Linked DNA regions of Homo sapiens. The protein of the gene in region 3 interacts with the protein of the main gene of each other region in a biochemical or structural test. Each region holds a gene or a part of one and is shown on either strand. Other genes may lie near its edges. The genes, in order: KMT5A, PRMT5, H4C1 and CREBBP.

Region 1 (8,985 bases), on a different chromosome or scaffold from region 3:
AGCCATTTGAAAGCGTCTTCTATTTCTGCAAGGCAGAGAAGTTTTGCAGCTTAACTGCCATGAGAATCATGGTTTTGGAGCAGGAAGCACCCACATAGATCATCTTATCCATTTCACATTCTAGTATACCGAGCCACACCCCACGCCCCACTCATGGTCATAGCTTTCTCTGCATTTGAGCCCCCAATTGCAGGGGACACATTACAAGTCTAGCACCTATTCCTCTCAATTCTGCAGCTCCAGTACCTAGAAGATGTAAATACAGATCATTCAATGTAAGTTTCAAAACAGTCCTTTCTCCGCAAGTTTATACGTATATAACAAATACACCAGCTGGGCGCAGTGGCTCACACCTGTAATCCCAGCACCTTGGGAGGCAGAGGAGGGCAAATCACCTGAAATCAGGAGTTTGAGACCAGCCTGGCCAACATGGCGAAACCCCGTCTCTACTAAAAATACAAAAATTAGCTTGGCGTGGTTGCGCATGCCTGTAATCCCAGCTACTTGGGAGGCTGAGGCAGGAGAGTCACTTGAACCCAGGGGGGTGGAGTTTGCAGTGAGCCAAGATTGTGCCACTGCACTCTATCCTGGGTGACAGAGTGAGACTCTGTCTCCCAAAAAAAAAGAAAAGTCTGTATTTTTGGAGACCCCCCCACCAGGTGCTAAGGGATAATGAACTGAAGATGGCAAAATGAGGAGGGCAACCAACCAAGAGACCATTCAACAATGGCAGTAGAAATAGTGAAAGGTAGGTGGACTGACCCCTGAGACTAATATATTGGGGTTGTAAATATTTGCATGATTATAAAACTTCAAAATGAGTGAGGTGTTGCCTGGCATCTGACCAGTTTGTTTCTGTGACCCAGCAGGGCTCTCAAAGTGAATTGCAAGTTCAAAGCCCAATTTTCTAGAAGAAAAAGACTGTTCATTTGAAGTGCTGTAAATGATTTGGTATTTACAATTCTAAATATTGGCCAGGCGTGGTGGCTTTTGCCTGTAATCCCAGCACTCTGGGAGGCCGAGGTGGGCAGATAACCTGAGGTCAGGAGTTCAAGACTAGCCTGGCCAACATGGCGAAACCCCGTCTCTACTAAAAATACAAAAATTAGCTGGGTGTGGTGACAGGTGCCTGTAATCCCAGCTACTTGGGAAGCTGAGGCACAAGAATCACTTGAACACAGGAGAGGGAGGGTGAAGCGGGCTGAAATCACTCCACTGTACTCCAGCCTGGGTGACAGAGAGAGACTCTGTCTCAAAAAAAAAAAAAAAAAAAAAAATCTAAATCTAAATATCCAATTTAATAGCTTGCAAGGGCAGTAAAGCCTAAGAAACAGGTAACTACTAATTTGGGGGTCAAGTGAGACAGTGAGAATCAATAACTAATAATTACATAGGTGATTTGTAAGCTGCCATGGGAGGAGCTGACAAACATTATCTTCGCTTTGGGTAAGTAAGGGAGGTTGGGTGGCACAAGCAAAGACCCAGCCAAGCTAGAGTCTGGACAGCAAGTTTGGACTTCACGCTTCCTCTTCCAAAAAATGAGAATAACAATTTGTAAAGATCAATTGAGTTAATAAAGTGCCTGGCCCTCAGTGGTAATTATTATTATTTTGTTATTGTTCTTGTTTGTTTTTTTGAGATGGAGTCTTGCTCTGTTGCCCATGCTGGAGTGCGGTGACGTAATCTCGGCTCACTGCAAGCTCCACCTCCCAGGTTCAGGCAATTCTCCCTGCCTCAGCCTCCCAAGTAGCTGGGATTACAGGCATGCGCTGCCATGCCCGGCTAATTTTGTATTTTTAGTAGAGACGGGATTTCTCCATGTTGGTCAGACTGGTCTCGAACTCCCGACCTCAGGTGATCTGCCCGCCTTGGCCTCCCAAAGTGCTAGGATTACAGGTGTGAGCCACCATGCCTGGCCATAATTATTATTTAGTCATATTTTAAGTATTTCAATGATAGATGGTTAGTTTTCTTCATATATTAATTAATGCACTACTTTTAAAACAAGTAGTTTAAATGATTTTGCTGTGATGAGAAAAATGAACCCAGGAAGCATAGTTTTATTAAAATTTGTCAGATAAATTAGTCAGATAATGTTAAATATACTTTTAGATGCTTAACACTTTTCAAAGGAAAAATATTAGTATTAATTTTCTCCAAGAGTTGAGTGATGAAGCTCTTTAACCTGAAGTTTACTATGCCTCATTTTTTCATCAGGCTCTGGGTAAGTCTTATCCCAAAAGAACCTCTAGGGATGCTAGGAGAATAGATGATGCAACTGACTTCAGGGCCTGAAAACAAAGGGACCCAATAGATATTTACTGAATGAATCATTATTTTATTCATTATTATTGCTATAGGGAGCATACTGCACTAAAGCAAATTCCTACTAACACTTGAAGCCTTGAAATTTTGAGAAAAATATAATACCAAAACTTTTTTTTTTTTTTAATACTAATTCTACTCAACTTTCACGCTCAAGTTTTTGGCCCTTTGGCGTGAAGGAGACGCAGTGGCTGGAAATGACCAAGCGGTTGGAGATCTCTTTGCCGCATACCTGGGAGGCACTGTCCTGACAGCCAACTAAGTATGCAGAGGACTTCAGACAGGGCATCGCCTCCCAGGGCTGTACAAGCCCACCCAAGCCATCTACCGGGGGGCGAAGTCCTGACCAGATGCGGGGCGAACGACCGCGCCCGCGAGATGCCAGGAACCCGTTTTACCCCAAAGTGGGCCAGCGGGGCCCGGCCTTCGCTCCAGCGGCGCAGAGCTGACTCAGGACGTGGGGAGGGAGGAAAGGCGCCTGCTGCGGTGTCCACCCTGACGCGCACCCCAATATGCAGGTTATCGATCTGCGCCTTCGCCTCGGGATCACCTCCTTTCCCAAAGAGAGAGGGCCCCAAAGTGGGCGAAGCCTCACTCCTGCCCCCGCCCCACTTCTATCAATAACACCTATTCCCTGGAGGTGCCCTGCGCTTTAGTTTCCAAAGAGCTCTGACATATGGATCTGCTGCCGTGGAGAGGCAGGCCCGCAGGTGTTCACTTCATAGAAGGGAAACAGAAGCACGGCAGTGGGAAGGGTTTCTGGGGGCATCTGGAGCCGCAAGGGGGGGCCGGCGGGTTCCGCAGCAGCACCCCCTCTCCCCCCACGCGGGTCCCCAAGCTTGCCCCGAGCCACCCGAGGAGGACGCCTCCCCGCAGCCGCTGCCTCCACCCCGGCAACCCCTCCAGCACGACCCCCGACCCAGCCGCTCCGGTGCCGGCCACTTGGGCAAATACCTCTAGCCATGGCTCCACTCTGTCACCGCCTGGGATCTCCCGGGAAACCCAGCTTTCGAAAAAAGTTGCAACAACTCAGCCAACTGCTCCGCCGGGCTCCAGCTGCTCGCCCCGATTGGCGCCGCCTCCCGCCTCTCCGCAGGCTGCCCGTAGTGATAGGCCAACTCGGAGAAAGGCCCCGCCCTTCTCCCGCCTCTTCGGCGGCGGGGCGTGTCCAGCCGCCGCAATAACTGCAAACGCTTTCCCGACAGGTCCCGGCGGAGGAGGTGGGAGGGGTGTTTAAATTTGACCGTCGCCAGACGTTGAATGGCTGCGATGGAAGACACCCGAGCTGCCATTGGGAGGCCCCAGATTCCTCCCCCTCCCGCTGCTGAAGCTCCGCCTCCGGAGCGTGAGTAGCCCGGCTGGAGCCCTGGGCTCCGAGCCGACCGGATCTGGGACTTCCGGTTCTCTGTGGGCTTGACCGGAACCCGACCTTTGACCCCTCGATCTTCCCTTAAGAGCTGGGAAACCTGAGTCTCCCAGCAGTTTAGCAACTCCAGCACACCGACCTCTCCAGCAGTTTGATCCATTCATTCTCAGGTTTGAAAGGTTTTGGCCGGGCGCGGTGGCTCATGCCTGTAATCCCAGCACTTTGGGAGGCTGAGGCGGGCGGATCACCTGAGGTCCGTGGTTCGAGACCAGCCTGACCAATATAGAGAAACCCAGTCTCTACTAAAAATACAAAATTAGCCGGGCGTGGTATCGCATGCATGTAATCCCAGCTACTCGGGAGGCTGAGGCCGGAGAATAGCATGTAATCCCAGCTACTCGGGAGGCAGAGGTTACGGTGAGCCGAGATCGCGCCATTGCACTCCAGCCTGGGCAACAAGAGCGAAACACTGTCTCAAAAAAAAAAAAAAAAAAAAAGGTTTATTGAATATTCCAGTATTCAAAACCCGGCCGGGCGCGGTGGCTCACGCCTGTAATCTCAGCACTTTGGGAGGCCGAGGCGGGTGGATTACGAGGTCAGGAGATCGAGACCATCCTGGCTAACACGGTGAAACCCCGTCTCTACTAAAAATACAAAAAAAATGAGCCGGGCGTGGTGGCGGGCGCCTGTAGTCCCAGCTACCTGGGAGGCCGAGGCAGGACAATGGCGTGAACCCGGGAGACAGAGCTTGCAGTGAGCCGAGATCACGCCGCTGCACTCCAGCCTGGGCGACAGAACGAGACTCCGTCTCAAAAAAAGAAAAAAAAAAAAACCCACAGACACAACTCCTACCAACTAACTGGGTCAGTAGGGAAGGTCCTTCCAGGACCGCAAAGATCCTAATGCTTCACACCCACCCATTTTACAGATGGGGCAATAGAGGAAGCGGGTCACTTACGCGCTGCCCAAGGTCACCCAGCAATGTAATTGCAGGGCCTGGGTCAGTCTCTCCACTGTTCAAACACTAAATGGCTACCTTATCCCGAGGGAAGCAAGTATTCGCTGTTCCCCTCTGAGAGAGGGGGCTCAGTCAGTATGTTCCCAGAGAATCAGGTGTCCTGGAGTGTCTGCTTTGGACTCAGGGAAGGCGTCCAGTTACTACTGCTCTTCCCTGGGGCCCCTCCCAGGGGTGTGGGACGAGGTCACTAATCCATCCTGTCTCTTTGGTAATTGAAAAGGTTTTGGAGACCCAACCATTGCCCAAAGACTCTTCCAAAGCACCAGGAAAATAGGAAAGGAAAATAAAATGATATATGTGAAAGCACTGGGAAAGGTAGAAAAGGACACTTTTGTCACAAAGTCACTGTGTCACTTGGCACATCAGTTCAGCTCTCTGGCCTTCCATTTCCCTACCTGTCAAATGAAGGAGCTGGTGCCGTAATCTCCAACATGCCTTACAGCTTCCATAAATATGTGGAAGTGTGGCAGTGTGCAGTGGCTCTCACCTGTAATCCCAGCACTCTGGGAGGCCGAGGCAGGTGGATCACGAGGTCAGGAATTCAAGACCAGCCTGACCAACATGGTGAAAACCCCGTTTCTACTAAAAATACAAAAATTAGCCAGGCGTGGTGGTGCGTGCCTGTAATCTCACTACTCAGGAGGCTGAGGCGGAGAAGTGCTTGAACCCGGGAGGCAGAGGTTGCAGTGAGCCAAGATCGTCCCACTGCAATCCAGCCTGGGCACCAGAGCGAGACTCTGTCTCAAAACAAACAAACAAACAAACAAAAAATATATATAGAGAGAGAGGTGTTTGCTTTCTCCAAAATTGATTATTTCAACATTTATTGAGCTCTATGCCTGCCGCTGTTTTGGATCCCCCAAGGATCCGAAGGGAAAGTAGACACAGCTCCTTCCCTGCATTCTTTTAGGGAAGAAACAAGGCATTATTTAAAAGATAATTTTAAGGCTGGGTGTGGTGACTCACACCTGTAATCCCAGCACTTTGGGAGGCTGAGGTGGGCGGATCACCAGGTCAGAAGATCGAGACCATCCTGGCTAACACGGTGAAACCCCATCTCTACTAAAAATACAAAAAAAAAAAAATTAGCCGGGCGTGGTGGCAGGCACCTGGAGTCCCAGCTACTCGGGAGGCTGAGGCAGAGCTTGCAGTGAGCCGAGATCACGCCACTGCACTCCAGCCTAGGCGACAAAGAGAGACTCCATCTCAAAAAAAAAAAAAGAGAAAAAAGAAAAAAAAGATCATTTTGTTTATTTATTTTTATTTTTCTTGAGACGGAGTCTCTCTCTGTCTCCCTAGGCTGGAGTGCAGTGGTTTGATCTCGGCTCACTGCAACATCTGCCTCCTGGGCTCAAGCAATTCTCCTGCCTCAGCATTCTGAGTAGCTGGAATTATAGGCGCCCACTACCATGGCTGGCTAATTTTTGTATTTTTAGTAGAGATGGGGTTTCACCATGTTGGCCAGGCTGGATTCGAACTCCTAACCTCAATTGATATGACGGCCTCAGCCTCCCAAAGTGCTGGGATTACAGGCGTGACCCACTGCGCTCAGCCCAATTTTTGTATTTTTAATAGAGATAGTGTTTCTCCATGTTGGCCAGTCTGGTCTCAAACTCCTGGCATCATGTGATCCAGCTGCCTCAGCCTTCCAAAGTGCTAGGATTACAGGCATGAGCCCACCACCCCTAGCCTAAAAGATTATTTTTATTTTATTTATTTTTTAAGACAGGGTCGCATTCTGTCATCCAGGCTAGAGTGCAGGGGCACGTTCTCGACTCACTGCAACCTCCACCTCCTGGGCTCAAGCAATTCTCCTGCCTCAGCCTCCCAAGTAGTTGGGATTACAAGAGTGTGCCATCATGCCCACCTATTTTTTTTTTTTTGAGACGGAGTCTCGCTCTGTCACCCAGGCTGGAGTGCAATGGCGTGATCTCGGCTCACTGCAACCTCTGCCTCCTAGGTTCAAGCAATTCTCCTGCCTCAGCCTCCCGAGTAGCTGGGATTATAGGCATGCGCCAAAACACCCAGCTATTTCTTTTTTGTATTTTTAGTAGAGACGGGGTTCCACCATGCTCCCCAGGCTAGTCTTGAACTCCTGGCCTCAAGTGATCCACCCGCCTCAGCCTCCCAAAGCGCTTGCCTTACAGGCGTGAGCCACCGCGCCCGGGCATATTTTTGTATTTTTGGTAGAGAAGGGGTTTCACCACGTTGGCCAGGCTGGTCTTGAATTCCTGACCTCAAATGATCTACCTGCCTTGGCCTCCCGAAGTGTTGGGACTACAGGCGTGAGCCACACGCCCATCCAAAAGATTATTTAATTTAATTAATTTATTTATTTTATTTATTTATTTTTTGAGACAGAGTTTCACTCTTGTTGCCCAGGCTGGAGTGCAATGGCACAATCTCGGCTCACCGCAACCTCCACCTCCCAGGTTCAAGCGATTCTCCTGCCTCAACCTCCCGAGTAGCTGGGATTACAGGCATGCGCCACGATACCCAGCTAATTTTGTATTTTTAGTAGAGACAAGGGTTTCTCCATGTTGGTCAGGCTGGTCTCAAACTCCTGACCTCAGGTGATGATCAGTCCACCTCGGCCTCCCAAAGTGCTGGGATTACAGGGGTGAGCCACCGCACCCGGCCTATTTATTTTTTGAGACAGAGTCTTGCTCTATCGCCCAAGCTGGAGTGAAGTGGCAGGATCTTGGCTCACCACAACCTCCGCCTCCCGGGTTCAAGCGATTCTCCTGCCTCAGCCTCCCAGATAGCTGGGATTACAGGCACCCGCCACCACACCCAGCTAATTTTTGTATTTTTAGTAGAGGTGGGGTTTTGCCATGTTGGCCAGGCTGGTCTCAAACTCCTGACCTCAAGTGATCTGCCCACCTTGGCCTTCCAAATTGCTAGGACTACAGGCATGAGCCACTGCTCCCAGCCCAAAAGATCATTATAAATAGTGATTAATGCTATAAGGAAAAAAGGCAGGCCAGGCCTGGTGGCTTATGCTTGTAATCCCAGCACTTTGGGAGTCCGTGGCAGGTGTATCGCTTGATCTCATAAGTTTGAGATCAGCCTGGGTAATATCCACATTTCTACCCTGTTCTGTGATACAGAGCAGCAAACCATAATTCCCCGTTCTCAGTTAATGTTAGGTTCTTCCAATGAGAGCAGATAGAAGCAGTCTGGGAGGCAGGAGGAAGAGAGGGGACTTGTTCTTGCCTGTTTGCTTACTATTCCTAGCATGTTCCCCTCAGTAATAACACTGCCTCTGGCAGTAGTATTTGGTTCAGTCTCCAGGTTCTTTGTACACTCCCAGAGACAGCCTCCTTGTGCTCCCGCGGAGGCACCAACAGCAGACCCCTCCTCAGAGTTTTGAGTCCCAACTACACAGGGCTCTGGGAGGCCCAGCACCAATCTGGTTGTGCCTCTTTCTTTTTTTCTTTCTGTCTTTTTTTTTGAGACAGAGTCTCGCTCTGTCACCCCAGTGGCACAATCTCAGCTCACTGCAACCTCTGCCTTCTGGGTTCAAACGATTCTCCTGCCTCAGCCTCCCACATAGCTGGAATTGCCGGCATGCACCACCACATCAGGCTAATTTTTTGTATTTTTAGTAGAGACAGGGTTTTGCCATGTTGGCCAGGCTGGTCTCGAACTCCTGACCTCAAGTGATCCGCCCACCTCTGCCTCTGAAAGTGCTGGGATTACAGGCATGAATCACAGCGCCTGGCTATGTGCCTCTTTCTTAGAGGGGTGAGAACGAGCTCTCCGGGGCTCTTCCTCCGATTTTGCTAGCTGTGCTAACCCCAACTTGTTTTTATTTTTATCTCCAGCTTTGGAGGTGGTAGCTGCTTCCTCTAGTTGTTATTTACATTGCCTCGGTGTTCCCTTTCTGCCTTCTCAGTCCTCTGTCACCCGTTTAATGAATTTCCTATTTTAACCTCTCTGTTTTCCTAACTGGATGCTGACTTACAGAAGGGCACTAGTAAGACTTATATTTTTACTCCAGTCCAATGGAAAGCCACTAAATGGTTTTAAGCAAAGGGTAGATTCATAGATTGTAAATCTGAATACTAATTTATTGCAAAGAGTACATAAATTATAATTATCGACACTGGGCGTGGTGGCTCATGCCTGTAACCCCAGCACTTTGGGAGGCCCAGGCAGGAATATGACTTGAGGTTGGGAGTTCGAGACCAGCCTGGCCAACATGGCGAAACCCAGTCTCTACGAAAAATACAAAAAAACTACAGGTGGCACACACCTGTAATCCCAGCTACTT
Region 2 (8,517 bases), on a different chromosome or scaffold from region 3:
CCGTCAAATATTTTTTGTTTGGTTTATTTTTGACCTATTCTATAAAGAAATTTCCTAATACCTTTGTATTAATTATTGGTATAAACCCTAATTGGTTGTATTATATAATTACTATATTAACATACTGTTACGTTTTATTTATTAATCTTAAATATTTTAGGAATCTAACATTTATATCCATAAGTAAGGGTCTATAGCTTTTTTGGGAGTGTTATTTCTGACAGGTTTTGATATTAGATGTGTTCTGTCTTCATAAATAAATTGGGTAGTTTTCCATCTTTTTCTATGTTCAGAACAGTTCCTGCTTTCTATTCATTTTGACAGATAAACACTGTATAATAGAGATGACAAAAAAGAGAATGCAAATCTGCACAGATTATTTTGCCTCAGTAACTCTGCCACTTTCATAGCTGGAGTACAGCCTTGATTGTGAAAAAGAAATTTGGAGCAGTAGGAGGGTCAAACAGGCCATTATTTTGGTGTTGAAGAGTGTGGCTGGCTGGGCAGGCACAGAGATGAGTGAAGGTGGGCCTGGGGAGGGAGGCAAGCGCTGAGGGAGGAGGGGAGCACAGTAGAAGATGCCAAGAGGTTTTCAATGGGCTAGAGGTGTTTAAACAAGGACAAAAGAACAAGATAAGGTGGAAGAATTGGGCCTGAAAGCGAGGAAAGCCAGGGGGATAAGTGGGAGCATTATCTGGGAGTGGGTACCTCTTTCTTCCAGAAAGTCTCCAGTGCTCTGGCCTATTGGTCATTGGCTCCTGTTGGAGAAAGTAACATTATTTCTCACCCAGGGTATTTGCCCTTCTGTCCCACCATTTCCCTATCTTCATCTCAGCCAAGGCAAAAGTCCCATAGTATAACAGTGATTCACACACTTCTGGGCCCAAAAACTCAGCATGCAGAGCAGAGCAAAGCAGAACATAATGTAGACTTCACCAACTTTGACTTAACGCCTAGGGACAGGACCTGTTCAAGGCGCTCTATTTCTCTTCATTCCTTCCCTTCTTGCTCCTCTACAACTCATGTAGACAGACCCACGGTTACATGCTGTGTTTTATGGCACAGGAAAGTGCTATAGAAAAGGCTGAGAGCAACGTGGTATGGAGTTACTGAGAACTGTTCAGCATGATGCTAGCCACAATGCCGAGGCCATTTGGAATGAAAAGACAAAGACAGCACAGACCAAAGAAATTCAGCCCATGTAAACTTACTTTAGGGTCAGTCAGAAATTCTAGGTTCTTTTTACATGAATCCTTTAGAAAATTACTTTAACTGATGGCAAAACTGACATTATTGTTTTATAGATTGTCCTCTCTCCCTGTCACCCATGATGGGTTAGTTAACAACCAACAGAGCAGCTACCTGCTTGACATCAGGAGTGAGATGCCAGGAGCACAGATGGTCCACAATCTAGACAATTAGCTTCTAAAGAAGAAAAAACATCTAACAAGTCTTCTGTGAATGTAGAGTTTGGCTGGGCACAACTAGGGCAGAGAACAAGCAGACCTCCTCAACAACTCTTTCTTTTACCTCTTAAAATGCCAGTGAAAGTGGGGCGTCATGACTCACACCTGTAATCCCAGCACTTTGGGAGGCCGAGGTGGGTGAATCACCTGAGGTCAGGAGTTTGAAACCAGCCTGGCCAACATGGTGAAACCCCGTCTCTACTAAAAATACAAAAATTAGCCAGGCATGGTGGTGCACACCTGTGGTCCCAGCTACTTGGGAGGCTGAGGCAGGAGAATTGCTTGAACCCGGGAGGTGGAGGTTGCAGTGAGCTGAGATCATGCCACTGCACGCCAGCCTGGGCGACAGAGCAAGACTCTGTCTCAAAATAAAATGAAAAATGAAATAAAATATAAATAAATAAAATGCTGGTGGAGTACTCACCCACTTGCTGAGAACAACCATTTATTGGAAAGACCTGGAGGGAAGAATTCCAAATAAATTCTGTAGATACTCCAACTCTAAGGAGGGGGAGCATAGTGACTTCCTTCCAATGAATACAGTATGGAAAGTTGGGGCCGGGGAGAGGGTGGGAGAGAATCACTTAACAGTGGAAAAACTGGATAAACTACTTCTTTTCAGGTGATCAAGGTCAACATTAAGTCATAAATCATGTTCATAGTATGTACCCTTGATATGATGTGATTAAAATAGCACTTTTATTTTTTTGAGATGGAGTCTCGCTCTGTCACCCAGGCTTGGAGTGCAGTGGTGTGATCTCGGCTCACTGCAGCCTCTGCTTCCCAGTTTCAAGCAGTTCTCCTGCCTCAGCCTCCGAGTAGCTGGTATTACAGGCGCATGCCACCATTCCTGGCTAATTTTTGTATTTTTAGTAGAGACGGGGTTTCACCATGTTGGCCAGGCTGGTCTCGAATTCCTGACCTCAGGTGATCTGCCTGCCTCGGCCTCCTAAAGTGCTGGGATTACAGGCCTGAGCCACTGCCCCCGGCAAAAACAGCACTTTAACTCTGTGACCTTCCTTCCCAAAACACAGTCTAATCATGAGACAAACAGACAAATTCCAATAGAGGGGCATCCTACAATATACCTAACCAGTACTCCTCAAAACTACCAAAGTCATCAAAAACAAGGAACATCTGAGAAACTGTCATAGCCAAGAGGAGCCTAAGGAGACATAGCAACTAAATGTCATATGATATGCTGCATGGGATCCTGGAGCAGAAAAATAGTAACGATAATAGTGGACAAAAGCACCTCCAATCACTTCAGGCTTCATGGAGCTTTTTTTTTTTTTTTTTTTGAGATGGAGTCTCGCTCTCTCGCCCAGGCTGGAGTGCAGTGGCACGATCTCGGCTCACTGCAAGCTCTGCCTCCTGGGTCATTCTCCTGCCTCAGCCTCCTGAGTAGCTGGGACTACAGGCGCCTGCCACCACACCCGGCTAATTTTTTTTGTATTTTTTTTAGTAGAGACGGGGTTTCACTGTGTTAGCCAAGATGGTCTTGATCACCTGACCTCGTGATCCGCCTGCTTCGGCCTCCCAAAGTGCTGGGGTTTTTTTTTGTTTTTTTTTTTGAGACGGAGTCTTGCTGTTGCCCAGGCTGGAGTACAACGGCATGATCTAGGCTCACTGCAGCCTCCACCTCCCACCTCCTAGGTTCAAGTGATTCTCCTGCCTCAGCCTCCTGAGTAGCTGGTATTACAGGCGCACGCCACCACGTCTGGCTAAATTTTGTATTTTTAGTAGAGATGGGTTTCTCCGTGTTGGTCAGGGTAGTCTCGAACTCCCGACCTCAGGTGATCCGCCCGCCTCGCCCTCCCAAAGTGCTGGGATTACGGGCGTGAGCCACTGTGCCCAGCCTGGCCTTCATGGTGCATTTTTTAAATGCTTTGGTTTTTCCGACTTTCCTTTCCTCCTCCCCCTGCCCCGACATTATTTTGCTCTTGTTGCCCAGGCTGGAGTGCAGTGGCGTGATCTTGGCTCACTGCAACCTCCGCCTGCCGGGTTCAAGCAGTTCTCCTGCTTCAGCCTCCCGAGTAGCTGGCCGAGTAGCTGGGATTACAGGCGCCTGCTACCACGTTTAGGAGAGACGGGGAGTTTTCATGTTGGCCAGGCTGGTCTCGAACTCCTGACCTCAGGAGATCCACCCGCCTCCGCTTTCCAAAGTGCTGGGATTACAGGCGTGAGCCACCGCGCCCGGCCGGTTTTCCGGCTTTCATTCTTTTGGGGCACTTGCATTGCACCCAGGGTTCCCCAGAACTTATCCTACCCCACACCCTTTTCGTATTTCCTATGGCTCTGTCCCCAACGAGCTATGGTGATCTCAGTCGCATGGCCTCAGTTCTTTTCTTCTAGCGACCTCCATCCAACTTTCTATTACACAGCGCCCCCTAGACGTTCAATTCAGCATGACCAAACCCAAACCCTGATTTCCCAAACCCTCTTTCCGCATTTCTTGCTCACTGCATGGACAGAATCCTAGGCATCACCCCCTACTTTGCTTTCTCAGGACTCCTTGCCAGTCGGTCCCTAAGTTCTGCCAGCGGCGCCTGCGTGGGGTCTCTTGTACCGTGTTCTCCTCTCCATCCTTGCTGCCGAGCCCTCAACACCAGTGGGCCCCCTGCCTTCTGGAGTTCCCATTTACCTCCCTATGTCTTTCCTTGCTTCCTTCCTTTCCATCTCTAGCAGCTAATGACATGAGAAAATGTAGATTCTCTCTGGCCTCCATGCCAGCCAATTTCATGACTGCTGCCCACTGTAATTAATGAATTCCTTTTCTCTATCTTGAGGTGTGTGTGTGTGTTTAGGCGTTTATTTACACCTTTTGTGTTTGAAACACAAAACACTACTTCCTAGAATCACTAGGAAGTAGTAGCTGAGTTAGCAGTTTATTTTAATATGTAACATAGTAAGGTGACAAAGCTCATTTTAATAGCACCAGCCATTAACCCAGTTTTCTCAGTGTTCATATGGACGTAAATAATGACACAAGAAAAACACTTTTGAGGGTAGTTACGGGAAAAGCTGACATTACATGGCTGCATAACCCAACCGACTCAGGATCTGATAATGAAAGCGTGAAGATAATAAAGAAGCATCAAGCTGCGAAAGGAAAGGAAAATTACAAAATGCTCACGCAGCGAAGCTGCGAGGAACCCCACCGAGCCAGCCAGGAGTCGAACCTGGAATCTTCTGATCCGTAGTCAGACGCGTTATCCATTGCGCCACTGGCCCTGAGATGGCACTGTTTCTCTCCGTGATGGTACTTCAAGGTTATACTGCAGGGTTTCATGGGCGGTGTAGTCTCTCAACGGCGTTCTTCAGATAGACTAAGCATTCTGGGAGATTGAAGTTCGTCAGGAACCAGACCCTGAGATTGGTGGATCCATGCCGTACGCCACTGTGCAGCCCGCGGATTGGCAGGAAAAGCCACTCCCCATCCCTCCTGTTCGGGAGCTGTGGCAGACGCTCTGGTTGTTAAGGCGACTCGTCCCGCCTTCTGGGGCACTAGTTTGACTTTGTGATTGGCTACTAGTATCAAGGAATCCCGGCGTGGACAGCGCGAGGAGAAAGATGGCGGCGATGGCGGTCGGGGGTGCTGGTGGGAGCCGCGTGTCCAGCGGGAGGGACCTGAATTGCGTCCCCGAAATAGCTGACACACTAGGGGCTGTGGCCAAGCAGGGGTGAGGGCCGGACCTCCACGAGCGGAATGCGGGGTCCGAACTCGGGGACGGAGAAGGGCAGACTAGTCATCCCGGAGAAGCAGGGGTGAGGGGGTCGGCTAGGATGAGGAGGGGAGAGACTATTACTCTTTGGAGGGGAGGAGCCTCGGACCCAGTAACGTGAGGAAAATAACTTGTGGGAGGCCTGTGGTCACTGAGTCCCAAAGTTGGGAGAGTTGTTGGGTAAACTCTAAAGGGCCCTGGAGGTCGCGATTATTGTCTGGGAGTGGGAGGAGGTGTTAGGGGGCAAGGGAGAGAAGAGGCTAATTTTGACGGGGGAGGCATGGGCAGAACTGGGGCAAATCTGGATGTGATGGTCTTGGAAACATACTGACACCTGAGGAGAAAAAAATTCTACTTGTGGATATCCATCATTTTCTCCTTACTCATATGTCCCATGGCTGTGTTTTAGGGAGAAATTGAGGCACAGTACAGCAGAGTTGATATCCCCCAAGGTGGTCTGAACTCAGCAGCCTAGTAGGCTGAACTGATGGCAGCTGAAAGGGCTGTGCAAAATCAAGATAGCCTAAATCCAGTTGCTTGGCTCTCTGGCACTGCTGCTGTCTTTACATGATTCTGGGTCTGTCGCGGTTGTAGGTTTGATTTCCTCTGCATGCCTGTCTTCCATCCGCGTTTCAAGAGGGAGTTCATTCAGGAACCTGCTAAGAATCGGCCCGGTCCCCAGACACGATCAGACCTACTGCTGTCAGGAAGGGGTAGGGACCATCCCATATGCCCCTTAATTATTAGAGGCAATAACAACTTCTGCTTTATCGGGGCCCTCATTCTCCTCCTTTTCTGACTTGGATATATTTGTTAGTCCCTGGGATATAGATAACTTGTTTTCTCCTTGCTTCTCTATTCTGCATCAGGCTATCCCATGTCTATGTAGAAAAAACCTTTGTCTCTCATTTCTACTCTTGATTCCCAAAACTAAAAATTGAACAAGTAAAGTGCTGAACCTTATTCAGTATTTGTCTTTCTTGGGTGGGGGAGTGCAGACTGGAATACGCTAATTGTGGGAAAGCTTTCTCCATGGATTCGTCCAGACTCAAAAGTGGAGAAGATTCGCAGGAACTCCGAGGCGGTAAGACTGTTTGACTTCTCTGCTGGATTTTTCTAACCAAGCTGGGTGGGGAGAGTGGTCCCCTCCCATCCCCAATAACTTGGTAAATTAACTGATAGAATGAAATTAAAGCTATTAGGCTGGGTGCTGTGGTGCACACCTATAATCCTAGCACTTTGGGAGGCTGAGGCTGTAGGATCACTGGAGCTCGGGATTTCGAGACCAGCCTGGGCAGCGTAGTGAAACCCCATCTCTATAAAATATACAAAAATTAGCCAGGCATGGTGGTGCATGCCTGTGGTCCCAGCTACTCAGGAGGCTGAGGAGGGAGGATCAGTTGAGCTTGGGAAGGTCAAGGCTGCAGTGAGTGGAGACTGTGCCACTGCACTCCAGCCTGGGTGACAGAGTGAGACTTTGTCTCAAAAAAAAAAAAAAAAAAGCTGTTTGCTTGTTAGCTCAAACTTTTCCTCTTCATCTCCGTTCCAGGCCATGTTACAGGAGCTGAATTTTGGTGCATATTTGGGTCTTCCAGCTTTCCTGCTGCCCCTTAATCAGGAAGATAACACCAACCTGGCCAGAGTTTTGACCAACCACATCCACACTGGCCATCACTCTTCCATGGTATAGCTGAGGGGCTCCTTTCCTGCTGCATATCATAGTAGTCAGATTGTGCTAAGTACCTTCTTGTGCCTAGCCATTCAGTGAAGGGTGTGTTTGGCAGAATTGAAGTATCAGTATTGGCGGGCACAGTGGGTGATGCCTGTAATCCCAGCACTTTGGGAGGCTGAGGTGGGCAGATCACTGAGCTCAGGAGTTCGAGACCAGCTTGGGCAGCGTGGTGAAATCCTGTCTGTATAAAAAACCAAAACCAAAACAAAAACAAAAAAACACAAATTAGCTAGGTGGGGTGTCACACGCCTGTAGTCCCAGCTACTTGGGAAGCTGAGGTGGGAGGATGACTTGAACCTGTGAGGCGGAGGTTGCAGTTAGCTGAGATTGCACCACTGCACTCCAGCCTGGGTGACAGAGCCAGACCTTGTCTCAAAAAAAAAAAAAAAAAAAGGTCAGTATTGCGCACCTCTCCATCTAAAAGTGGTATGAAGAGAGTTTCAAAACATGTAAATGTAATTATTTTGGAAACTTACGTAAGACAAGGCAGATATTTACATAAGGATCTATATATAAGGTACATGTTCACTTACAAAATTACAAATTGGGAAAAGCATATAAAGGGATTAACGAGGTCTGGATGAAGTTTTTTTTATTGAGGGAAACTTTCTGGACCCAATGAGTTCAAAAGAGAGTTCTAAAAGGGTGACTGTTCATGTGCAGTTCTGGATGCGGGTACCCTTGGTGGCACCAGAGGACCTGAGAGATGATATAATTGAGAATGCACCAACTACACACACAGAGGAGTACAGTGGGGAGGAGAAAACGTGGATGTGGTATGTCTCCCTTTGCTGCTGTACCAGGGTGCAAGGGATAGGGTGAGGGGAAGTACAGGGTGCAACCTGTAGGGAGGTCTCCTTGAGCTGTGGTGATTGGTCGGCCATATCTAGTTTACTGTACTTTTCTGTATTTGACTGAACAGGTGGCACAACTTCCGGACTTTGTGTGACTATAGTAAGAGGATTGCAGTGGGTGAGTCCATGAGAATCCTGGGATGGGTGTGGCTTCTCTTACCTCCTGTGAATAAGAATCAGGAATTTCATATATAGTATACAATTTTGCTACTTCCCCTCTGTCTCAGACTGGCTTTCTCTTAAAGAAGTAAACAGATTTTGCGCAAAGGAGCAAGGAAGGGTTTCTTGCCTGGCAGTGGTTGACAGTTTTTCTTTTGCCTCATGTAGCTCTTGAAATTGGGGCTGACCTCCCATCTAATCATGTCATTGATCGCTGGCTTGGGGAGCCCATCAAAGCAGCCATTCTCCCCACTAGCATTTTCCTGACCAATAAGAAGGGATTTCCTGTTCTTTCTAAGATGCACCAGAGGCTCATCTTCCGGCTCCTCAAGGTGAGTGGTAGGAGGGTTCTAAAGGTAGTCCAGCTATACATCTTGCCTTATTTACCTGTGTATGATCGTTTTTTCCTGTGAGGCTGACTCTTTTTCTTTGGTTTCTGGGGAGCAATTTCAGTGAAGTTGGGAATCTTGAGAACAAAAAGGTAAATGCCAGTAGTAGCCCTAGAAACCTTTCAAAACAAACCAAACCTCATGAGAACTTTGCAGAAGGTTTCATTTAGGAAGTTACAGCAAGGATCCATG
Region 3 (6,175 bases):
TTTCCCTATCAGCTAACCTGAAGTTCACATCCCTTTTCCAGCTGAGTTCTGAAGCTAGATGTACTTAACTGGAACACATAACTGCATCAGGAACATCCTTTAAAACTATGGCTACCATGGCTTGACTGGACAAACCCCAGGCTTCCAGGTTTAGCACAGGTGGCCCTTCACAGACCAACATTGCCTATGCTACCAACCTCATGTCCTACCACCCTGCTTGCATCATTTCTCTCTCTGCATATATAAAAATATATGTGTATGTATATAATCAGCTTTATTGATATTTAATGTACCACAAAATTTGCCCACTTTAGGTACAGTTCAATGAATTTTACCGTGTTTTCTTAGTTGTACAACCATCATCACAATTTAATTTCGGAATATTTCTATCACCCAAATTTCCATTTCTGCGTAAAGGGGGAAAAAAAAAGGTTAACTGCTGAAGGCCGCGGTAACACTGAAAAAGGTGCCTTTTCTCTCTAAAACAGATTTTAATCTCCCCTGAATTTAGTGTCCTGGGTATTCCAGGAGTCTGAATAGGGTTTCAATTTTCAGGGTCTTTTTAATAGAGTAAAACTGTATTGGTGGCGATAAATTTAGTATTGCTCTCAGTACATGATTGAGGGATACTTAAATGTCTCTGTGATTTTATTTCATAATCGCTAAAAGATGGTTTTTTTTTTTCCTAAAACAGGGTTTTTGTTTTTTCTCAATAAGCTTCTTAGCTTCCCCTCCGGCTCCCTGGCTTGCCTCAGGAAATATTAGCTCATCAGTTCTGATTGGTTGACAGCTACGAATGGCCCTCATTGATTGGGCAGCGCTTCTTTGTCCCTTGGAAACTAATACAAATTTTTAACACTACTTTTTTTCCACTCTTTCTTCAGAGTTGGAATATCGTTGCTCCCCTACCCATATGTAGTGAGTGGAGGGCAAACTTGGAGTTCCCCTAATCTTTCCTTTTTAGGATGTCAGCTCAGTATCATTCATCTTAATTACACATTGAGCTTCTTGACTTAATGGATACAGCTCTTCTTTTGTTTAGTTGGGCGGCCCTGAAAAGGGCCTTTGGTTCAGAAATGCAAGCTGTGGAGAAATCAGCAACCTTAACCGCCAAAGCCATAAAGGGTGCGTCCCTGGCGCTTAAGCGCGTAGACCACGTCCATGGCAGTGACTGTCTTGCGCTTGGCGTGCTCCGTATAGGTGACAGCGTCACGGATCACGTTCTCCAAAAACACCTTGAGCACCCCGCGAGTCTCCTCGTAGATCAGACCAGAGATCCGCTTCACACCGCCACGCCGGGCCAGACGCCGGATGGCCGGCTTGGTGATGCCCTGGATGTTGTCACGCAACACCTTGCGGTGGCGCTTGGCACCCCCCTTACCCAAACCCTTCCCGCCCTTACCACGTCCAGACATGACTTCCCAAGAAGTGAACCAAGAGCAAGTGAGAGAATAGGAAACCGATCTTTATATATCTACGTTACCCCTGCCCCCACCTCCAGCGGACACTGAGACTGAAAAGCGCGCAGGCGGGAAATGTGACGCCTACAGTCCGCTCCTTTAACCCCTCCTCCAAGCCCCAGGAAATGGCGGGAGCAGCGATTGGGGGAGGGTGGGGAGATGAGGGTGGGACCAAGCAGGCTTGACCAATGGCCTTTATTTTCTTAACAGAGCTACAGGCTTTGAGGAACTGGGTTAAGAATTAAATGTAAACCCATTCTGACTCCAGAATTATTTTAAGTCGAACTTTTTTTTTAACCGAATCTCTCTGTCGCCCAGACTGGAGTACATTAGAGCCATCTCGATTCACTGAAACCTCTGCCTCTCAGGTTCAAGTGTTTCTCCTGCCTCAGCCTTCAGAGTGTAGCTGGGATTACAAGCGCTCGCCGTCGCGCCCGGCGTGTTTTTGTATTTTTCGTAGAGACGGGATTCGGCCATGTTGGCCAGGCTGATCCCGAACTCCTGATTTCTGGTAATCCGCCCGCCTCAGCCTCTCAAAGTGCTTGAATTACAGGCGTGAGTCACCGCGACCGGCCGAAATCGATTGGTTTTGAAGCCTTCAGTAGCATTAAAACGAAAAGTGCTCCCAATGCATTCCCTTTTGTCTTAAATTGGTTTCTTACAGCTACTTTACTTGAAAAGGTGGTGGCTCTGAAAAGAGCCTTTGCTTGGACCGTCAGAGAGACCACAGTAATCACGCCCTCTCTCCGCGGATGCGGCGGGCGAGCTGGATGTCCTTGGGCATGATAGTGACGCGCTTGGCGTGGATGGCGCACAGGTTAGTGTCCTCAAATAGCCCTACCAAGTAGGCCTCGCACGCCTCCTGCAGAGCCATCACAGCGGAGCTCTGGAAACGCAGGTCTGTTTTAAAGTCCTGCGCAATCTCGCGCACCAGGCGCTGGAAAGGTAGTTTACGAATAAGCAGTTCAGTGGACTTCTGATAACGGCGGATCTCGCGCAGAGCCACGGTGCCCGGCCGGTAGCGGTGGGGCTTTTTCACGCCGCCGGTGGCCGGAGCGCTTTTGCGGGCTGCCTTAGTGGCCAACTGTTTGCGTGGCGCCTTGCCACCAGTAGACTTCCGAGCAGTTTGCTTAGTGCGAGCCATGACGGAAAAACAGCACAGCGGAACACCCAACACTAGCGCAAATACGCCCATGAGCTGCTCTATTTATAGTGTGTAAAGTGCAGTGATTGGATGATAGAAGACGCTAAATATGACGTTACACACTCTGATTGGTCTATCTTTAAGCCAGCAACAATCGTGCAGTTTCACCGGCTACTATATTCTATTCCAACTCTACAGATGATTATTTAAGTGGTATTTTATTACTACTATTATTTTATTTTACTTTTGCTTTGTTCCCCAAGCTGGTCTTAAACTTGGGCTCAAAGGATCTTCCCGCCTCAGCATCCAGAGTAGCTGGGATTACAGGGGAGCCCCACTGCGCCGGCTTGGACTTTAATTTTTTAAACTTGTCCTCTTCTACATCTGGTTTTCATAACCTGAAGGCTGTGTTTATTTTCCATAAAACAAGGCATTGATTCCAAAGGTATTATAATTCCCCAATTCCGTATAACCTTCAGCTCTTTAGGAAAAAAAAAAAAAAAAAAAAAAAGAGGGAATACTGCTCACCTCCTCTCCGGAAATGTACCCTTTACGGGAATTTCTGAAACCTTTCACAAGAATTGGATTCCTTTGTAATGCTTTAATTGACTTAGGAGTGTTATTGAAATCTACAAAGCATCTCAAACATAGTAGGATTACACTATTACTCAGAAACATTTTCTATGAGACGTCTTTCTCTTGATTATGCTCTTTGAATCCTAAACTTGCAGCGTTCTGCAGCTTTTGTTTTCTAAAGCCTAGGTGTACTCTGCCAGTCACAAAATGGCGTTTCTCCAGCACTGCCGCCAGGTACCACCAGCTGGGAGTTGTTCCTCTTGCGGAGCAGGAGGTGGACTTGGCCCAAGAGAAACTGGATAGTGGTTCGCAAGGAACATAATTTAGCATTGCCAAGAGCTAATGCAATCATTTTGAAAATCTCAAAACACTGAAAAGTGGATTGTGACCTTTTTAAATTCACAAGAGACAGGCCACATTCTATCTTTTGATTGGTTTAGGCTATTTTCTTGAACAGCCATTTAGAAAGCAGATCTATCATCCTTCATTTGCATGGAGCGTTCCCATTTTATTTGAAACCAGTTTAACCCAATAGAAAAAAGGGAGGCAGAACCCATTATTTAAAGTGGAAACTCCTGAATCAGATAATTAGGAGTATTTCCTTTTCAAAAGTTGCGTTTTTTCAGATACCTCGCTTATTACACTAAGAAAGGTTTATATCTTTCACAAAGGGTTTACTTACAAAAATCTTCCAATTTTGTATACCTGTGTTTCATAACTGACTAGCCGTCAAACCAAGATGTAGAGTTTCCAACCGTTATTTTCCAAATTTTTAGAAATTACGTGAAATATTTGAATGCATGCCTTCTCAATAAAATGGGACGTAGGAAGCACTGGTGCAGAAGATGGGTACAATACTTATCTGGGACCACTCCATTATTTGGTTGGCACGTTGTTTGAACAAAAAGGGGAAAAGCTCAGGTTACTTAGCATGGTTCGGACTTATTTGAAAACTACCACAGCAGGAGCGGAAATAAGACCGCATTACCTCACTCTCTGCTGTGCTGTGCTAGGGGGTTATCCAGAATAGGATTGTAGAAGTGGATGTCGATTTAATAGTTTTTTATTCTCCCATTAGCTGAGTCTCTGATTGGCAATGTGAGATCGTTTTAGCTTATTGATACTTTGAAATGCACTTAACAGCCACAAACAAGTTAAAGGGTTGTTACCATAAAATCTTATCCCCAGGGTGTGCTTGCATTTATCACCCGTGTTTGCTTTCACACTAAGTGGACTTAACTCCCCAGCAGAATGCCTGTCAGGGAACCGGTTTCGTGGACCCAGCATTTAACGCCTTTCGCAGGCTTGTGAGGCCCATAAATATTTGTTGAATAAAAGAATGAGTTGACCATGTCATGGTGCGCTGATTGCGTGTGCTGACATGGAACACAGGTTGTAAACCTTAATACCAATTTGGGGCATGTTGTATGGATGAAAAGGGCATTGGAAATTCCTGAAGTGCATCCCACATTGGACTGTGGAAATAAGTTGCAAGTGCAGAAACGTTTCCACACTTGCAGTTTGAGTATTAATTGCAGCGTTTGTGAATTCTGGTGTTGTCTACGATTCATTCTTGTTTGACGTGAAAGGTATTCGCGAGACACATCGCTCTAAAACATTGCCAGAAAATGTAATAGAGTTGATGACAACTGGCCCTAACACGGCCTAAAACTCGCACTTTTCTCTCCCTCCGCAACTATTCAAAACACTGTATTTTACATTTCTTGCAAATTAAAAACTAACATCTCTGGCAACGGACCTCTAAAAATTTCTAATAAAACTCCTCGGATGCTTGTGGCACTGCATTTGTAAACCGCCCCCTCTCAACCTACTCCCTAAAAAAGAGCTGCTTTTTGAGAGAGAAGCGGTACCCTCTGATGTTACTGGGCGGCAGTCTGCCTACAATTTCCTTCACAATGAGGCAACCAGAGCGGCTTTTTCTGTGTGTTTGCTTGCGTTGAGGGGAGCAGGACCATAGGCCCTAGAGGCCCCCAGCTGCCTTCTGAGACTGGGCGAAACCCTCGGCAGCGCGCAGGGGGCGCTAGGGCGCGAGGGGCGGGCACTGACGGGCACCAATCACGGCGCAGTCCCACCCTATAAATAGGCTGCGTTGGGGCCTTTTTTTCGCATCCTGCTTCGTCAGGTTTATACCACTTTATTTGGTGTGCTGTGTTAGTCACCATGTCTGAAACAGTGCCTCCCGCCCCCGCCGCTTCTGCTGCTCCTGAGAAACCTTTAGCTGGCAAGAAGGCAAAGAAACCTGCTAAGGCTGCAGCAGCCTCCAAGAAAAAACCCGCTGGCCCTTCCGTGTCAGAGCTGATCGTGCAGGCTGCTTCCTCCTCTAAGGAGCGTGGTGGTGTGTCGTTGGCAGCTCTTAAAAAGGCGCTGGCGGCCGCAGGCTACGACGTGGAGAAGAACAACAGCCGCATTAAGCTGGGCATTAAGAGCCTGGTAAGCAAGGGAACGTTGGTGCAGACAAAGGGTACCGGAGCCTCGGGTTCCTTCAAGCTCAACAAGAAGGCGTCCTCCGTGGAAACCAAGCCCGGCGCCTCAAAGGTGGCTACAAAAACTAAGGCAACGGGTGCATCTAAAAAGCTCAAAAAGGCCACGGGGGCTAGCAAAAAGAGCGTCAAGACTCCGAAAAAGGCTAAAAAGCCTGCGGCAACAAGGAAATCCTCCAAGAATCCAAAAAAACCCAAAACTGTAAAGCCCAAGAAAGTAGCTAAAAGCCCTGCTAAAGCTAAGGCTGTAAAACCCAAGGCGGCCAAGGCTAGGGTGACGAAGCCAAAGACTGCCAAACCCAAGAAAGCGGCACCCAAGAAAAAGTAAATTCAGTTAGAAGTTTCTTCTAGTAACCCAACGGCTCTTTTAAGAGCCACCTACGCATTTCAGGAAAAGAGCTGTAGTACACAGATGAAATCCCCCAAGCAAATGCAACACGCCCTCAATTATATTAGAATCACTTGGAGAGTCGATAGAACTTTAACATAGCCTC
Region 4 (7,552 bases), on a different chromosome or scaffold from region 3:
CTGCAACCTCTGCCTCCTGGGTTCAAGCAATTCTCCCGCTTCATCCTCCCGAGTAGCTGGGACTATAGGCGCATGCTGCCACGCCTGGCTAATTTTTTGTATTTTAGTAGACGGGGTTTCACCACGTTGCCCAGGCTGGTTGTCAACTCCTGAGCTCAGGCAATCTGCCCACCTCAGCCTCCCAAAGTGCTGGGATTACAGGCGTGAGCCACCATGCCCAGCCCAACCTGAGATCTTAGAAGCAGAAGCCTCTCCATGCCACATTATCCAGGGACAGCTCATTCTATGTTTCTAACATGCTAGAATTTCAAAGATAGCATCAAACACATGCTCTGTAGAGAAAAACTCCACTGAACATCTGCAATTTTTTTTTTCTTTCTGAGATGAAGTCTCACTCTGTTGCCCAGGCTGGAGTGCAGTGGCGCGCTCTTGGCTCACTGTAACCTCCGCCTCCTGGGTTTAACCGATTTTCCTGCCTCAGCCTCCTTAGTAGCTAGGACTACAGGTGCACACCACCATGCCCGGCTGAATATTTTTTTTTTTTTTTTTTTTTTGAGACAGAGTCTTGCTCTGTCGCCCAGGCCAGAGTGCAGTGGTGCAATCTTGGCTCACTGCAACCTCCACCTCCCGGGTTTAAGTGATTCTCCTGCCTCAGTCTCCTGAGTAGCTGGGATTACAGGCGTGCGCCACCATGCCCAGCTAATTTTTGTATGTTTAGTAGAGACGGGGTTTCACCACGCTGGTCAGACTGGTCTCGAACTGCTGACGTCGTGATCTGCCTGCCTTGGCCTCCCAAAGTGTTGGGATTACAGGCGTGAGCCACTACACCTCGGCCAATTTTTTGTATTTTTTGTAGTAGAGATGGGGTTTCACCATATTGGCCAGGCTCGTCTCAAACTCCTGACCATGTGATCTGCCCGCCTCAGACTCCCAAAGTGCTGGGATTACAGGCATGAGCCACCAAGCCCGGCCAGCACCACCTACAATCGTTTTTTTGAGACAAAATCTCACTGTTGCCCAGGCTGTAGTGCAGTGGCACGATCCCGGCTCACTGCAACCTCCGCCTCCTGGGTTCAAGCGATTCTCTGCCTCAGCCTCCTGAGTAGCTGGGATTCTAGGCGCCTGCCACCACACCCGGCTAATTTTTTTGTATTTTAATAGAGATGGGGTTTCACCTTCTTGGCCAGGCTGGTCTCGAACTCCCGACTTCATGATCCACCCGCCTTGGCCTCCCAAAGTGCTGGGATTACAGGCGTGAGCCACCGCACCGGGCCCGCATCTGCAATCCTATAATGACGAGCCGTTGAGCTAACTGTAAGTCATTAGCCAATCTGAACCATCTTTGAATCCAAGTAGTTTTACCATCTTTTATTATAAACACCATCACATTTCAAGTTTCCTCTTTTTGATCACAAATATAGGACTTTTTCTTCTCCTCTTAAGTATACAGCATGAGACACAGCGTTGGGGCTTTCCAGGTTTCTTACAGAAATTTCCTTACGACAAACTTAGGGTTAGCATCCACAGACCATGCTCTCGGTCACATCCTTCGACATCTGGATTGCCCAAGACGGTTGCACAGGATGCAGACTCCAAAGAGGATGAGGTTGGTACATAACGTTTTGAATTCCAGGATAACCTGAAACAGAGGCCCCTCCACTGCCCACATTAAAAGGCTGCACAACCAGGAGGGCGCCACTTTCTGAGTGTGGGCTTAGAGCTGCTGCTCTCGGGCTCTAGCCCCACTTCTTGTTTGAACACATGGCTCAAGGTTTCCCTACGGGTGGAAAAGATGAAGAGGACACTGGAGGTTAAGAACCCAGCAGGCCGAGCAGTGGCAGCAATCTCCACCGGAGGCCCGGCCTGTGCTTCCCCTCCTGGGATGGGGTGAATGGGGGCTGGTCAGGGGTGCCAGATGGTGGTCTTATTTTTACTTGAATTATTCTGCATTTTATAACTCAAGGTTCAAAGCTCTGTGCTAAAACTAGATCGGACCTTTCCAACTTCTTAGAAAGGTTCCTCGAATTCAGATTCCCAAACCAAGTATTCAGCTATTTAAAACCTATCTGTGAATGTAAGGGCCCAAACGGAAGCTATTTGGGGCGTGATTTCTAAAATTACCATCACCCCCACCTAGACCAGCCTTTGTTGGGGGACTAGGGATAAAGTGGGTTCTCTGGGTGCTGGGGGTGGTAGACTTAGGGGATGAACTTCAGCTCCCCTGCCCATGGTCCTCCTCTCAGTTTTACGGTTTTTGTGAACTTGTCTCACCCACTCAGTAAGGGAGCCTGGAACTGGACTCCAAGGGAGGCAGGACCATGTGGCTAAGTGCAAGTATCCCCCGAAGTGGGGGACCTTTCTCACTGTAACAGGGACCGGAGCTGGTGCTCCAAGGTGTCTGTCCCTCAGCATTTCCTCAAACGCCACACGGGACATGCTGCGCGGCAGCGGCAGGATTTGGGGGGAAGTCAGAAAGCACCTCGCGAGCCTGGAGCACTCTCTGCCTCAGATTCTGGGAGTCGTGTACGGGGGGGGGGAGCCGCCTGAACACGGGAAGAAGCGCCGCCTCTGGGGGTGGCAGCTACGACGGACAGGGAGGATGGAGGAGTGGGCCAAATGCAGTTTCAGACCAACTGACGACCCTAACTGTGTGAGCGACAATCACCTGTGAGCCTCGAATGTGTGGGGCCAACGCTGAGCCGCCCACCTCAGTCGCCCACCTCAGTCTCCGGGAAGAAAAGCCTCCGGGCGGCCGCTAAGCCTGGGCCACAGTTCCCAGCCACCACCCACGCCGCCACAACCACAACCGCAGCCCCAGCCTCTCCGCTATGAGCGAACAACCAGAACCATGTCTTACAAAGAACAGACTCAAAAAATATATATAAATAAATAAAAACCTTAAACATTCTTACAGGGATCTTAAAGAACAGAATACATGTTAAAAACCTCAGTAATTTATATCAATTTTAAGCGGTACTTTATATACAATGGGGAAAAAACACATGCATAGTCCAAATACAATGTTGAAAACAGCATTTTCATAACAAAAAACCCCGAACACTAAGTGTTAATACCATGTACATGAATTCAAGAAGGACCACCCTTTTTGTCTGTTGCACACAGTTTATTTAACAATATGATATAAGAAATGAGTTGGTATTTTACCATTCTATACAGTGATTGAATCTTCTCGAGTTTCGTATTTATAGGAATTAGAGCGCTTGCATGATTTACACTAGAATTGCTTTTCCTCATTTCAAGTTTCACATAGAAGAAAGAAAAGAAGGCTTCTTCTCTAGTAACATTAGCATGGTCTAAGAGTGATCATCCCTATTTTTTGTCTAAAACCAGTTTTATCAGAGAAACAAAGCAACAATTTCTACATCTGCAAGACAAGTTTGGCTTCAGCCATTATGTATAGATAGATGTGTGTGGGTGTGTACGTGTGTGCACGCCGGAGTCAATTCCTATCATCCAGGGTAATACTGGGAGACGCCCACAGAGTTCACTATAGAAAAAAATCTTCCCGAAACATCACAAAGTTATCGGGATACATTATAAGCTTGCATTATTTCAGGAATCAGTTCTGAATATTATTTTTCTTCTTACTTTTAAACATAAATGTTTAAAGTCTTGAAAATACAAATAAAAAATATGAATATAATGAACTTGTTTTTCCCGTTAAAAAAAGGCATGAGTCACCAGCAATGACGACAAAAAGAATCCAAACAAAACCCCCCTCCCCCCAAACAAAAACAAAACGGAAAAAAAAGAACCCCCCCCACCCCCCCGCCAAAAAAAAACCAAAGAGAGAGACCAGATATTTAAATCAACTGGTTTTTAACAAAAAAATATATTCTTTGTATTGTTTCTTTAAACATCAATCCACCCTTCCATGGCTCGGAAGTCGCAGTTCCATCTAGGAATAAAAAGAACCTAGATGCCTGGATTTTCAGTACAAAAGGTCCAAGAACATGAAAGGGAAAAGGTGATGCTCTCACAATGCTACAAGCCCTCCACAAACTTCTCTAGCGTGTCCCCCGTGGTGTCCCCGACCAGGGACAGTTCGCTGGACAGCGCACTCCTGCTGGGGGTGTTCAGCTGGGGGAGCATTGCACTCTGTTCGGGGTTCCCCAAGTGTCCCTGATCTATGGAGCTGGCCATGGTGACTGCGAGTCCGGGGTGGGGGGAACCAGTCTGGGGTGAGACGTGGTGTGGCGAAGGCTGGGGCTGTATCCGTGGTGACGGGCTGGAATGTGGAGGCTGGGACTGGGGCCGTGGAGACTGGACAGGGGCTGGAGACCGCACCTGGTTACTAAGGGACGTGGCGATCTGCTGGCCAGGGAGATGCGAGGCCTGTGGCTGTCCTGAGAGCATGTGTTGCTGGGGGCTCATGGGGTTCGGCTGGCCTGGGGACCCAATCTGCTGCTTCATCTGCTGTTGCTGCAGAATCCGCTGCTGCAGGGCTTGCTGGATGTTGGGGGTGCTGTCTGCCCCCAGCCCCGGCTGCCCCATCTGGCCAAGCTGTCCCATCTGAGCCGCCATCTGGCCCATGGAGCTGCCCTGGAGGGGGAGATGCTGCTGCATGCGCTGCTGCTGCTGCATGGCCGGTGGGTAGCCTCCGGGTCCTTGAGGCTGCTGGAACTGGCCGTGCCCCGCCATGCCCCCAGCCATGCCGGCACTCCCTTGCTGCTGCTGCTGTTGCTGCTGTTGTTGCTGCTGCTGTTGCTGCTGCTGCTGCAGCAGCTGCCTCCGTAACATTTCTCGGTACTGTGGATTCATACTCGCCATGTTGGGGTTGTGTCCTGGGTTCATGATGTTCAAGGCCTGGCCCTGGGGGTTCAGGCCTCCCATCGCCTGCTGCTGTGGAGGCACACCGGGCCGCGGCACGCCAGCCTGCATGGCATTCAGGTTCTGCAGGCTGGGCTGCTGGTGCATGCCAGGCTGGGGTTGCATGCCGGGCTGGGACTGGAGGCCAGGCTGGGGCTGCATGCCGGGCTGATTGGCCACGTACTTGGCTGTGCGCTGTTTGATGAAAGCTGCCATTAGCTGCGGGTTTGATTTGAGAATGTTCAGCACCTGCTGTTGCTGCTGAGGGGAGCTGGGCGACTTCAGGGTCCGCAGCAGGTCTTGCAGAGCGCTGGGTGAGATGCTCCTGGGTGGCTGCACGCTGGGCATCCGGGGCCCAGCCACGGCCGCCTGGGCCTGCATGGATATCACAGGCCTGGGCAAGCCTGGCATGGGCTGCTGCTGGGGAAGGGGCGCCTGCTGCCACTGCCCGGGAGGCATGCTGGGCATGACGGGCCCGCTCACCTGGTTGGGTCGGGGCACATTCAGGCTCACGGGGGCCATCTGGCTCCCCGGGGTCCCCATGCCCGTGCGTCCTGGGGGCATGCTGTTGTTGATGTTCACCCGGTACAGGTGCTGCTGCTGCTGGGCCTCACGCTCGATCTGCCGAGCCGCTTCCACCGCTGCAGGAGGGGGCTGGGCCGGGGGTGGGGGGGCCGGCACCTGGCTGGTAGGCTTCCCTGTGGACACCGTGGTGGGGGGCTGAGTCCGGGCCACGCTGGGGAAGCCAGCTGGTGACATGCTCACGGGTGAGGGTTGGGGCTGGGCAGGGGGCTGCGGCGTCTGGGGTGTGCTGGGCTGCTGTGTGGGGGTCCCGGGCGGTGCTGAGGTAGGAGAAGGCAGACTCTGCTGAGGCACGTTGCGGGTGTTCATGGTGGCCATCCGCCGGCGCATGAGCTGGGCCTGCTGCAGGCGGTGCTGGATCTGCTGCTGGCGGAGCTTGTGTTTGATGTTGAGGCAGAAGGGCACGGGGCATTTGTTTTCTTGGCAGTGCTTGGCGTGGTAGCAGCAGAGGGCGATGAGCTGCTTGCACACCGGGCAGCCCCCGTTGGTCTTGCGTTTGCAGCCCTTGGTGTGCTGCACCACCCGCTTCATCTTCTGGCAGGATGGCAGCGAGCAGTTGGCGTTGCGGCACTGGCACGCGTGCACCAGCGACTGGATGCAGCGCTGGATGCTCAGCCGGCGTGACTCCTGGGGGCTCTTTGACTGTGGCTCGCCCTGGCTGCTGCCCTCGTCATCCAGGCCCAGCCCCCACTTCACCATCTTATGGGCATGGCTCTTCGTGTTATAGCAGTTGATGCAGAGGTCGTAGTCCTGCAAGCAAGGAAAGGGGACAGGCCGGTGTCAGCATGGGACCCAGTACCACCAGGCATCCTGGCTGCTTCCCTCCACCGCTAAGTCTGGGTCTGTGCCAGGAGACCCAGGCAGGATAGGAGACCCAGACAGGATGCGAGCACGGACAGGTGGGAGACCCGGACAGGGCGGGAGCACGGACAAGATGGGATCATGGACGGGATGGGATCATGGACAACATGGGATCATGGACAGGACGGGGGCATGGACTGCCTATGTGTTGCTCCCAAGGACCTTCACTCCTGGCAACAGCCCTGAAGGCTCAAAGATAACCTGACCCATGCCCCAAGAACCCCTGGCCTGTAAGCTCACGGACAGTAGACACCAGCCCCCTTCCTTCCGACTTCCTCTGACCTGGGAGTCACATCAGCCCTTGCCACAGCCTGTCCAACTCCTGTACTCAAACTATGAAGCCAGACAGTGAAAGGCTGAGGGAGGCCGGTCCCTCCCAAAGCGCCGACAGCTGCCGTGAAGTGCCTCTGGGAAGGCCTGAGCTATCCGCAGTGCACCAGTGGGACTTCCCCAACGCGCAAGCCCAAGTTACTGAAAACTGCTCGCACCTGGCAACCTGATGGAGCCCTAGGACCAGGTACCATGACTGTGTTCACAAAAAGATATGAAAACTGCCGCATTCAGAAACTAGAAAGAGGACAAAGGAGACTGGAGAAAGGTGGAAAGCGGAAGAAGTGTGTGAAGGTGGGGAGGGAAGAAAGGCCCTCGCTCTGCTGAGGACCCGCTCTGCCCCGCTACAGACACCACAGCAAGTGAGGAGGCTCCGGGTTGGCAGGTGATGGTGACTGTCCTGGGAGGGGGATGGTGGGATCTGTCACCTGCCTGCCCTGCACAGCCTGACTCGGCCCATGCAAGGGACACCCACGTCATTTCACAGGGGGGTCAAAATTCCTAGAGGGGAGTGAGGGAGCATGACCGGGGGGTCCTTCAGGAACAAGTGGCCAGAGGGGCCCAAGCTGCCAACAGGACAGCGGGTGTTTCCAGCCATTTAGCAAGACTAGAACTGGGCACAGACAGGCCAGACTTCCCAGCAGAGCCTCCCTCTGGCCGTCCCCAGGGTCAGGCCTGTGGCTGTGGCTACACAGAGCAGGTTTAGGAAACACACACACAGCAACGCCTTCTGCCTTGTGACGCTGTCCTAGTTCTGGAGGAGTCAGTGCAGCCACCATCAGGTACAGACACCAACCCGGGCACCCATGCAAAGGGACAGGATGCTTCGTCAGACCCCAGGCCGGCTGTGGGGGTGGGGGTGGGGGCAGGGCCTACCTCGCACACAGTGCAGTGCCAGCGCGTCTCCACGTGGTGCTTGCACTCGTTGCAGGTGTAGACAAAGCGGTCC

What was found.
Region 1: the proteins of H4C1 (region 3) and KMT5A are reported together in a solved structure, tested with the Homo sapiens proteins (6 studies listed by BioGRID, with this or other methods).
Region 2: of the proteins of H4C1 (region 3) and PRMT5, one has a biochemical effect on the other in vitro, tested with the Homo sapiens proteins (6 studies listed by BioGRID).
Region 4: of the proteins of H4C1 (region 3) and CREBBP, one has a biochemical effect on the other in vitro, tested with the Homo sapiens proteins (7 studies listed by BioGRID).

Annotation. Positions count from the first base shown.
Region 1 is NC_000012.12:123,378,503-123,387,487, reverse strand, and holds the start of KMT5A (N-lysine methyltransferase KMT5A), read right to left. Parts: upstream 3,357-8,985; 5' UTR 3,290-3,356; coding exon 3,280-3,289; intron 1-3,279. UniProt on the Homo sapiens protein: Protein-lysine N-methyltransferase that monomethylates both histones and non-histone proteins. Specifically monomethylates 'Lys-20' of histone H4 (H4K20me1).
Region 2 is NC_000014.9:22,925,884-22,934,400, reverse strand, and holds the start of PRMT5 (protein arginine N-methyltransferase 5), read left to right. Parts: upstream 1-5,024; 5' UTR 5,025-5,039; coding exon 5,040-5,149; exon of another isoform or gene 5,150-5,175; coding exon of another isoform or gene 5,176-5,234; intron 5,235-5,785; coding exon 5,786-5,904; intron 5,905-6,189; coding exon 6,190-6,275; intron 6,276-6,740; coding exon 6,741-6,875; intron 6,876-7,498; exon of another isoform or gene 7,499-7,586; coding exon 7,587-7,699; exon of another isoform or gene 7,700-7,845; coding exon 7,846-7,895; exon of another isoform or gene 7,896-7,940; intron 7,941-8,104; coding exon 8,105-8,268; intron 8,269-8,517. UniProt on the Homo sapiens protein: Arginine methyltransferase that can both catalyze the formation of omega-N monomethylarginine (MMA) and symmetrical dimethylarginine (sDMA), with a preference for the formation of MMA.
Region 3 is NC_000006.12:26,016,919-26,023,093, reverse strand, and holds H4C1 (histone H4), read right to left. Parts: upstream 1,446-6,175; 5' UTR 1,416-1,445; coding exon 1,104-1,415; 3' UTR 1,044-1,103; downstream 1-1,043. Other genes in the region: H3C1 (histone H3.1), read right to left, coding at 2,194-2,604; H1-1 (histone H1.1), read left to right, coding at 5,362-6,009. UniProt on the Homo sapiens protein: Core component of nucleosome. Nucleosomes wrap and compact DNA into chromatin, limiting DNA accessibility to the cellular machineries which require DNA as a template.
Region 4 is NC_000016.10:3,723,713-3,731,264, forward strand, and holds the end of CREBBP (CREB-binding protein), read right to left. Parts: coding exon 7,480-7,552; intron 6,163-7,479; coding exon 4,006-6,162; 3' UTR 1,342-4,005; downstream 1-1,341. UniProt on the Homo sapiens protein: Acetylates histones, giving a specific tag for transcriptional activation. Mediates acetylation of histone H3 at 'Lys-18' and 'Lys-27' (H3K18ac and H3K27ac, respectively).